Linked DNA regions of Homo sapiens. The protein of the gene in region 3 interacts with the protein of the main gene of each other region in a pairwise test. Each region holds a gene or a part of one and is shown on either strand. Other genes may lie near its edges.

Region 1 (3,752 bases), on a different chromosome or scaffold from region 3:
CAGGCTGGTCTCGAACTCCTGACCTCAAGTGATCTGCCTGCCTCAGCCTCCCAAAGTGCTGGGATTACAGGTGTGAGCCACTGTGCCTGACCACGAATTTATTTCTTTATTTTCAGGCTTTCTTGTTAATCATAGATTATCTTTGAAAATTCAAAATTAGGCTGGGCGCGGTGGCTCATGCCTGTAATCCCAGCACTTTGGGAGGCCGAGGTGGGTGGATCATGAGGTCAGGAGATCGAGACCATCCTGGCTAACACAGTGAAACCCTGTCTCTACTAAAAATGCAAAAAAATTAGCCGGGCCTGGTGGCGGGCACCTGTAGTCCCAGCTACTCGGGAGGCTGAGGCAGGAGAATTGCTTGAACCTGGGAGGCAGAGCTTGCAGTGAGCCGAGATCGCGTCATTGCACTCCAGCCTAGGCGACAGAGCAAAACTGTCTCAAAAAAAAAGAAAAAAAGAAAATTCAAAATTATTTTTAAATAAGTACATTGGTATTTAATGTATTTTTTGTTTCTATTTATCATTATAGGGAAATGGTAGGTGAATTGTATTGTTACTCTTATTAGAAAAAATTTCAAAGAAAGAATCTGAAATGAAATGAATTGTAAATTGCACTGAATATTTGAAATAACCTTTACTATGTGTTTCTATGTGTTTTCTAGAAATAGGTCATTTTCTTTTTGCCCTCAAGTAAAAAATGGAAGTTCTCCTTTAATTTCTTACTTTTCTTCAAGAGGTAAACAAACTCTTCAAGAATTTGGTGTGCAACTTTGATTTTTTTTTTTTTTTTTTTGAGACAAAGTCTCACTGTGTTACCCAGACTGGAGTGCAGTGGCAGGATCTTGGCTCACTGCAACCTCTGCCTCCCAGGTTCAAGCAGTTCTCTTGTCATGGCATCCTGTAGCTGAGCCTGAGCGCCAGCTGTCACTCCTGGCTAATTTTTTTGTATTTTTAGTAGAGATGGGGTTTCACCATGTTGGCCAGGCTGGTTTTGAACCTCAGGTGATCTGCCAGCCTTGGCCTCCCAAAGTGCTGCTAGGATTACAGGTGTGAGCCACCGCCCCGAGCCGCAACTTCAATTTTTTTTTTTTTTTTTTGAGATGGAGTCTCGCTCTGTTGCCCAGGCTGGAGTGCAATGGTATGATCTCGGCTCACTGCAACCTCCGCCTCCCGGGTTCAAGCATTTCTCCTGCCTCAGCCTCCTGAGTAGCTGGGATTACAGGCATCCGCTGCTACGCCCAGCTAATTTTTGTATTTTTAGAAGAGACGAGGTTTCACCATGTTGGCCAGGCTGGTCTCGAACTCCTGACCTCAAGTGACCCACCTGCCATCAGCCTCCCAAAGTGCTGGGATTACAGGTATGAGTCACTGCACCCGGCCTGCAACTTTGATATTTTAAAAAGAAATTCTTTTGAAACTAAGAGCTTTCTTAATAACCGTACTTCTCAAAATCAGAGTTTTACTGTTTCAATAAATGTTCACCCTAGATTGTAAGTTTTTTGTTGTTGAGCCCTAGATTTTTTTCTACTAGTGTAAATCTGTATTCCCTCCAAGTATGGTGATAAGGGGACTGAGTCTTATTTACATTTGTACAATCACTACTTTACCTGTTGTATTTGCAGTAAGTCTTTTGAGCCCTATTAAACCTGTCAATTTTCTTGTCCTGTCAGAAAACTGAGATTTTGGCTCAAAAATGGATGTTATTAACAAAGGGGAACAATATAGATGTCTTAGTACAAAGAAAATGAAATGTAAGAGGAGATTGTCTGGAGTTCAGGGGATAGAGTGTCAAGTCTTAAATGGTTACATCTTTTTGCTAAGTGTTACTCAGAATATAGTTACAAATATGGTACTTAAATATCTAGCTGAAATTTGTTTGTCCCATGAGCTTCTCACATGAGTCTACTGGGCAATTTTATGTGAGTTTTGGTCAAAATTGGTAATCTCTTTTATCTTAGTTTTGCATAATTTATTGTTGCCATTTTATCAAATGAGTAGGAAGTAGTGAAGTATTTCAAGAAGATTGCTCAGTGGGGTTTGATACAAGAACTGCCCAGTAGCTGGGCGACATTCAGAGCTCTCTCTCTGAGGTATATAAGAAGAGCCCTGGGAGCTCCTCACTGAGCCTCCTGTGAGTCAGGACATAGCCTTGCAGTCTGCCACTGAAGCAGCCTCACCAAAGCAAAGATTCCCTGCTTTGGAAGGGTGGTGGGCAAGATAAAGTCCTCCAAAGTAGTTATAGATTATTCTTTTTCTGGAGTAAAACTTACCTGCTCAGAGTTGTTACACAGCTGTATAAAGTCCTTAATGCTTTTAATTCTCAGGTGGTTTTGAGGGAAGGAGAAGAGCCTGTGATTTTCCTTCTGTGTATCTTTTTAGTGCTTAGAAATTACTTGCCAAAAAAAAAAAAAAACACGAAATTACTTGCAAGCTGGTTATGGTTGCTTATGCCTGTAATCCTAGTGCTTTGGGAGTTGGAGGTGGGAGGGTATCACTTGAGCCCAGGAGTTCAAGACCAACTTGGCAGCATAGCAAGACCCTATCTCTAAAAAAAAATGGGTATGTGTGGTCCCAGCTACCTGGGATGCTGAGGCAGGAAGATTGCTTGAACCCAGGAGTTAGAGGTTACAGTGAGCCATGATCATACCACTACGCTCCAGCCTGGGTTACTTGCAAACTAACAAAAAATCCCTTATAATTTTGTTTGTAATGCCTAAAGTGTTGATTTTTTTCCTAAGAATTCTTTACTGTGACCTTTATTTTCTGAGTTGTAATATTGTCTGTTTTGGTTAGAAAAAAAAAAGTTTAACCACAGAAATGCATGTTACATATTTGATTTTTACTTAATTGTAATATGTAATATATGTCTTGTTTTGCTTTTACTTGTTTTCAGCTACTACTTATACATGTGTGATAAAGTGGTTGCCCCAAATGTGTCACTTACTTCTGCTGTATCCCAGTCTAAAGAGCTCACAAAGACAGAGGCAAGTAAGTCCATATCAAGACAGTCAGAGAAGGCTCACAGTAGTGGTAAACTTCAAAAAACAGTGTCTTATCCAGATGTCTCACTTGAGGAACAGGAGAAAATGGATTTAAAAACAAGTAGAGAATTATGTAGCCGTTTAGGTAAGTATTCAGAGATTATCTTTCTAAAATTAAATATCTAATGAACACATTTATTGAGCATTTTCAAACAGGCTTTTTGTTTGAGCTAAATTTTCAGATAATTGGAGCTTTTACCTTTAAAAATGCTACCCTTCAAAACTCTGGGTGATTTATTTTAATCTCAGTTGCTATACTTTTCTAGCGTGGTGATAGCTCAGGAGACTGAGATAGATACAGGCTACCTGGCCTCAGACTGCAAGTTATTTTTGTCCGAATTTTTTTCCTTTCCTACCTTTTATTTGCTGTCAGTCTTCAGGAGATCCTTGTTTTTCTTTCCTCCTTTTTTTTTCTTTTTTTGTGACAGAGTCTTTATCGCCTAGGCTGAAGTGCAGTGGTGAGATTGCGGTCACTGCAGCCTCAACCTTTGGGCTCAAGTGATCCTCCCACCTCACCCTCCCTAGTAGCTGGGACCAGAGGCGCACACCACTGTGCCTGGCTAATTAAAAAAAAAAATTTTTTTTTTTTTTTTTGTAGAGATGGTCTTGGTATGTTGCTCAAGCTGGTCTCGAACTCCTGGGCTCAAGTGATCCTCCTGCCTTGGCCTCTCAAAGTGTTGGGATTACAGTTGTGAGCCACCGCACCCAACCT
Region 2 (3,339 bases), on a different chromosome or scaffold from region 3:
TACTTATTTATTTATTTATTTTTTGACACAGAGTCCCACTTTGTTGCCCAGGCTGGAGTGTAGTGGCATGATCTCAGCTGACTACAACCTCCGTCTCTCAGATTCAAGTGATTCGCCTGCCTCAGCCTCCTGAGTAGCTGGGATTATAGGTGCACACCAGGCCTTGCTAATTTTTGTATTTTTAGTAGAAATGGGTTTTCACTGTGTTGGCCAGGATGGCCTCAAACTCTTGACCTAAAGTGATCCGCCAGCCTCAGTCTCCCAAAGTGCTGGGATTACAGGTGTGAGCCATCATGCCCAGCCTAAGTGTATTGTATTAACAAAATAAAATGGAATGCCAGAATTCATGCCAAAGAAATAAGCTTATTTAAAATATTGTAACTATTTGAAATATATTTGAGTGGAAGAGTTCTGGGAAAATAATGAGAGAAGGATTTTAGAAAGATGATAACAGAAATGATCCTGAGCATTGGCACAAAAATTGAAATTCAAGATATATCTCCTGTCAGATTTAGGAAGGGTCCTAGGTCAAGATTAATTTGTCCGTGTTCAATCATATACTTCCAAGAGGGCTAGGATGCTGAGTCCTACTGATGTAGATGGTCAACAATCACAGATATTGGACAGGCTGAGTGTTGCAGTTCCATAGAGTACAGAAATAATCATGAGAGAATGGAGAATATTCAGTAAGATGATCCAAAAAGGCGAGACCCAAAGGCTGGTTAGTAACAAGTTGCCTGGAAATTCCTGGATGAAAAGGTAGTTGGGTGGTAGAAGCTGGACCCACAGTCCAGAGATTGGAAGCCAGTGCTTCCACAACCAAGAGATCCAAGGCCAGTGTTTCCACATCCAAGGGATCTTATGTAGTTAGTCTGGCGGGGACTGCAGAAGATGGAATTCTTTGGGCAGTAACAGGATGTCTGATAGGATCTGGCCAAAGTGCAGGATGTCTGGCAGCTGGTGGGCTCACAGTAGGTCTCCTGACAGCCATTGTAGAGAGAGGAGCCCAGTTGGCAGGTATTTGGAGAATAGATGGCATTGCTGGGGTAGAACAAATTATAAGTGGAAACTGGATACCTCAGGTAACTTCCAAAACAGCAGGAGGAGAAGTTTCCAGAGCTGCAGTTGTAAGACATGTTAACAGGAGTTCTGAGCTCAGGTGATTTGCAGTGAGGAGCGTGTGTGTGTGAATGTTACCTTCTATACTGGACACTGACATACTCTAGCAATAGGTGTAGTCACAAGTGCCCATTCTAATGAGAACACTTAATTAGGCTGCAGTCAAAATGAAATATATTAACACTCAAAGAATTTTATTTATGAACGTAGACTTCTACATGAAAGAATTTCATTAGTTTTTCAAAGCAATTGTTCATGAAACAAAAATGCCATTTCTCATTCATCTTGCTTAGGTAGAATGAAAACCACCATAATTGTACCTATAAGACTGATGCTTCAAAGGGTCGGGCGCGGAGGCTCACACTTGTAATTCCAGCACTTTGGGAGGCTGAGGCAGGCATATCACGAGGTCAGGAGTTCCAGACCAGCCTGACCAACATGGTGAAACTCCGTCTCTACTAAAAATACAAAAATTAGCCGGGCATGGTGGTGGGCGGCTGTAATCCCAGCTACTCAGGAGGCTGAGGCAGGAGAATTGCTTGAACCCGGGAGGCGGAGTTTGCAGTGAGCCGAGATCGTACCACTGCACTCCAGCCTGGGAGACAGAGCAAGATTCCATCTCCAAAACAAACAAACAAACAAAGAAACAAAAAAACAAAGAAAAAAACTTGATGCTTCATTCATCCTGTCCTTCTAGAAATTGGATCAAACGGCTAAGACACTGAGAGTTCTGGTATTTGTAAAGATCTGAAAAATACCTTGTAATCTGGAAGGGACTTTGATCTTGCTCCAATTTTATAAATTCAATTGAGAACAGAAAAAAAATTTCAATATCTATTCCTTCTTTCAATTCTTTGAACCATTAGAAGAAATAACCCAATAACAATCCTTATTTGGTAGACATGCTAAATGAGTGCCTAACATATTTAAGTTTAGATTTCTTATAACACAAGTAGCTAAGTCACTCTTGTGCACATGAAGAGTTAAGAATGAAGGGTGAAATTTTTGAACAAGTGCTTTGAAGTTTACATTGTAAAACTACTAAAGAAATCCCTTACTCAAAGGTTGATTTGCTTCTTCATAGAAGTCATCAATAAGTTTGATTATAAAAAACCGTTTATCCCCATAAGGTATAAGTAATTTTTGGTCATGTTGATGTTACTGAGAGGAAAATAATAAGCACTATAAGTAAAATGTAAATCGTTAATCTTTTCCTTTCTTTTCTCTCAGAGGGTGACATTTTTACCAGAGAGGGAAAAGAAAAGCAAGAAATGAGGGAAATGTCTATCCCATGTAGTATTCACAGAAAGATAAAATATGTAAAGAATTCATAGTAACAAATGACTTTATAAATTGAAATAAAGGGGTGGGAAGGATACATGATGATAATGTGTAATTGAGAGTGAATGCCTTTGTGACCTCTGATGTATCAGCTGACATATATATTCTGCCTAGAGTACTAGAGTAATGAGGATTTTTCTGGATTCGCTCAGAAAGTTCATCAGAGCAAACTGTAAATAGATATATGGCACGGATGCAGGAAATGCCTTAACCTGTGGGAATGGGCAAACCTCTTAAGACATCCATCTTCAGAACTGATGTATTCTACAATGGAAGTGAACTGAGACTCCCTTCTATGAAGAATCAGGATTACTAGGTAAAAGTTTTAGGGGAAGATTCAGCTAAAAATCTAAAATGAGTTGCTCTTGCAATTAATGATATTTCCATACTGAGGGCCCTGGGAAAATCTAATTAGGATGTTGTAAGTGGAATTCCAATCTGACAGGAGGCTGGAGATAATTGCTCAACTTCCTTCCAAATTGTAGACTTTATAAGTCTAAACTTTTGAGGAGACAAATTGATCTCCAATCATGTTTCATTTATTAAGTAACATAGTTTGTTCTGTGTTTCTGGAATAAACAATTCTTATTTATTAGGCTTCTCAATTATTAATAGCCAAAAAGCATTCTAGTAGATTCCAAATCTTCCTGTTGTGTTTGTCAATAAAATATTGAATATCAAAATAGCCACACAAATATTTAGCCCGCCTAAATTGAAGTTGCTTTCTTGTTTTAATGTCATCCATTCCTATATAAGCAATTTCAGTAGAAGAATACTCTGAGGGATCAGATATTAAGTAATGTCGCACATTCTTTTCTCAAAGTATGGATTTTTTTGCATTCAACTACTTTCATTCAGAAGTGGAATGGAAACTTTTTT
Region 3 (3,752 bases):
GCAGGAGTAAGGTTGCGCCCGCTGGGAGCCAGGAAAAGCAGAGGGCATAGATTGTGGACAAAACAGTGATGGAAGAAGACCTCAGGCTGTCCACAGAGGTTCCGGAAAAAGCCCCAGAATCGGGCACCACTCACTTCTGACTGTGGGCACTCCAGTCCCAGCACTGGTCGTTTAGGATGCTCTTGGGGAGGGGTCAGCACAGGCCCCACAATGCCCAACCAGTCCCGGACCATGCTTACTTCCCCAAAGGGCACCTGTGAGGAAGGAGAGAGACATGAAAGGCTTCAAACTGGAGACCTGAGGCCCGGGCTCTGGACCAACTGACTTCTTTATACCTTACATGAGGATCCAGCCTGCACCCCCTACCCCTACCTTCACCCAAAGGCCTGAGACAAGGATTCTTGGCCCTATGGTTTGAGCCTGTCTGTCTTTTTCCAGTTCTTCATTGTGAACCGTGGTCCAGAAGAATTTGTTTCCCTCTAGCCCAACTAGCCTTTGGGACTAAGTACAGGGACTACATTGAGATATCTAGCCCTACACAGGGTTTGATGGTTAGTACTGGGGACAGACAGATGGTCTGAGACAGAAAGGCAGCCAGGGTTAAAGGAGGCACAAGGATGGGCTGACCACTGCTGTCTGGATGCCCTCTCAGCCCCAAGCCTCAGGCTGTCATTTCCATCGATCATCATTGATCACCTTTCATCACCCAGTTGGGGTCAATAAAAGCGATTGAGCCTTCTGCCCTGAAGCCTCTTCCCCTCCCCCACCTGCCAAGCACCCCCACTGGGGGCAGTCACTCATCCTGAGCCCTGAAAGAAAAGCGGGCAGGCACTGGAGCCAGGCTCTGTTTTGAACCTCGCCTTAGCTAGGAAACAGAACCCAGGTTCCCAGAACGCCCTGCATCTCTTACATACCCACCCCTGTCAACCAGTCTCTTCTGAGGACCCAGCAGTCCTAGTCCCTCTTCTGACCCCAACCACACTTCAGGGACAGGGGAGATCCAGTAAAGTAAGGATGGGGCTGGCGGAAGGAAGGGCTCTCAGAGGCAATTACTGGCCAGCTCACAGGGAAAACGAAACTACCATTAATGTGCTTGGTTAATTACGGGCAGAGACGCTGGGAGAGGGCCTCGGACCACAGGAGCCAGTATATGTGTTGAGACAGAATGGGGCGGGAGGACCTACACATGTCTACAGCCATGCACATGCTCCTTCTCCACAGCACACCCAGCCAAGCATCCACCTAGAACCCCCCACTCCACCCACTGGGGAAGCCAAACCCTTTACCCCAGTCTGGGCCATGCCAAAAGGTCCAGGGTTCATGCCCAGGAAGAGTACTTCCTTGGGGCCCTGGCAGTAGCGAGTCACGTAGTTGCGATGTGGCTCCCATGCATACTCCACGGGATTGTAGATGATGCCCACAGGCTCCGAAAACTGCAGCTGGCTCAGCTCAGCATTGAGCCGAAGCTCCTCCTCCAGGAAGCTCTCAGCCAAGCTTCCAGGGCAGGGCTGGGGCTCCATGAGGGCACCTGCAGGCTCATGGATGGACCCCAGCAGGAAAGCCTGGGGCATATGTCCATGCCGCTGTCACCTGGGAAAAGAGATGGACAGAAGCCCCATCAACCCTCAGCCACAGAGTAGGAGGGATCCATGCTTGCCAGGGCCCCCACTACCATTTCCTGGGCTCAGAAGGGACCCTAAGAGACCATGTCAGTCATCTACCAACCACCAAGTAGGACTGAACTCATCTCAGTTCTTGGTAATGAAGGGCCCTTTCCCTCCCCACTTCCATTATCTGTCCTCTTCACATGGCACCTGGTGAGGATAAGCCATAGCCACCAAACATCTCCCACTCCAAATCTCCTTTCCATCAGGCATAGGTCACTAGTTCCTGGGCTATGCCGAGCACATAGTAGGTTTTCAATAAACATTTACTGGTGGCATCCTTTCAGCACCTTTAAGGTCATCCTAAAAAAGAAAAGCCCAGCCAGAATGGACTGTTCTGGAAAGCACGGCGCTGAAGAATGAAATGCAAGTGCACAGCCACAGCCCAGAGACCTGGGAAGGCTAATTACAATAGCTTCCAGGTGGTGAGCGACTGCTCTGCACCAGGTACACCTCATTGATCCTCACAACAATCCCATGAGGTGGGTATTACTGCTCCCCTGTTATAAGTGAGGACACTGAGGCTTAGCAAGATTAAGCAACTTGCCCAAGGTCTTACAGTTAGTAAGTAATAAAGCTGGATTTGGTTGAGCCCAATCTCTCTGGCTCAAGGCTATGCTTTAACCACCCACGCCATCTTGCCTTAGATGGTTTGATCAGCCACCCTGCTAATTCTACAACCCCCTAACCCCAGCCTAGCTTCTTTCCCACACTCAGGAATACCGAGTAGGATGATTACAGACTCCTCATAGAATCTTACGAGCTACACAACCATGGCCAGAGCCTCAGGTTTCCACCTTCAAATACAAAGAATAATAATATCCACTTAATAATGTTGACATAAGGAAGGCCAGGCATGGTGGCTCATGCCTGTAATCCCAGCACTTTGGGAGGCCAAGGCGGCTGAATCACCTTAGGTCAGGCGTTCAAAACTGGCCTGGCCAACATGGCGAAACCCCGTCTCTACTAAAAATTACAAAAATTAGCTGGGCATGCTGGGCGTGGTGGCTCAAGCCTGTAATCCCAGCACTTTAGGAGGCTGAGGTGGGCAGATCACCTGAGGTCGGGAGTTCGAGACCAGCCTGACCAAAATGGAGAAACTCCCACCTCTACTAAAAATACAAATTAGTCAGGCATGGTGGTACGTGCCTGTAATCCCGGCTACTCTGGAGGCTGAGGCAGAATCATTTGAACCTGAAAGGTGGAGGTTGCGGTGAGCCAAGATCGTGCCATTGCACTCCAGCACGGGCAACAACAGTGAAACTCTCTCTCAAAAAAAAAAAATTAGCTGGGCGTTGTGGTGGGCACCTGTAATCCCAGCTACTCGGGAGGCTGAGGCAGGGAGAACTGCCTGAACCCGGGAGGCTGAGGTTGCAGTGAGCCAAGATCGTGCCACTGCACTCAAGCCTGGGCAAAAGAGCAAGACTCCATCTCAAAAAAAAATAAAATAAAAAATAAATAAATAAATAAATAAATAAATAAATAAATAAATAAATTTGCCGGGCGCAACAGCTCATGCCTGTAATCCCAGTACTTTGGGAGGCTGAGGCAGGTGGATCACGAGGTCAGGAGTTCAAGATCAACCTGGCCAACATGGTGAAACCCCGTCTCAACTAAAAATACAAAAATTAGCTGGGCATGGTGGCACGTGCCTGTAATTCCAGCTACATGGGAGGCTGAGGCAGGAGAATTGCTTGAACCAGGACCTGGGAGGCAGAGGTTGCAGTGAGCCGAGATTGTGCCACTGCACTCCAGCCTGGGCTACAGAGGGAGACTGTCTCAAAACAAACAAACAGACGTAAGGATGGAATGAGATGTTATGTTTAGGTGAAGGGAGAAAAGAAATGGGAGAGGAAGAAGAAAGGGAAGAGAGAAGGGAGGTGGGAGGAAGGAGAAGGGAGGGGGCAGGAACATGACAGCAAGCTTTGTAAACTGCAAAGGCCATTGCTTCACTCCACTCCCATTCAAACCCAGTGTTCCAACCTGACCATTCTACTCACATTTTCAAAATGCCTTTCCTGCCTCAACTCCCAAAACCTTGCACATACCATTTCTACAGTCCAACCAAATACACTCCTGAAGTCAACC

What was found.
Region 1: the proteins of SMUG1 (region 3) and SKIL interact in binary tests that used the Homo sapiens proteins (3 or more experiments, as listed by UniProt).
Region 2: the proteins of SMUG1 (region 3) and KRTAP15-1 interact in binary tests that used the Homo sapiens proteins (3 or more experiments, as listed by UniProt).

The regions. Positions count from the first base shown.
Region 1 is NC_000003.12:170,381,641-170,385,392, forward strand, and holds part of SKIL (ski-like protein), read left to right. Parts: intron 1-2,892; coding exon 2,893-3,125; intron 3,126-3,752. UniProt on the Homo sapiens protein: May have regulatory role in cell division or differentiation in response to extracellular signals.
Region 2 is NC_000021.9:30,438,125-30,441,463, reverse strand, and holds KRTAP15-1 (keratin-associated protein 15-1), read right to left. Parts: upstream 1,190-3,339; 5' UTR 1,137-1,189; coding exon 723-1,136; 3' UTR 595-722; downstream 1-594. UniProt on the Homo sapiens protein: In the hair cortex, hair keratin intermediate filaments are embedded in an interfilamentous matrix, consisting of hair keratin-associated proteins (KRTAP), which are essential for the formation of a rigid and resistant hair shaft through their extensive disulfide bond cross-linking with abundant cysteine residues of hair keratins.
Region 3 is NC_000012.12:54,182,370-54,186,121, forward strand, and holds part of SMUG1 (single-strand selective monofunctional uracil DNA glycosylase), read right to left. Parts: intron 1,591-3,752; 5' UTR 1,572-1,590; coding exon 1,287-1,571; intron 255-1,286; coding exon 1-254.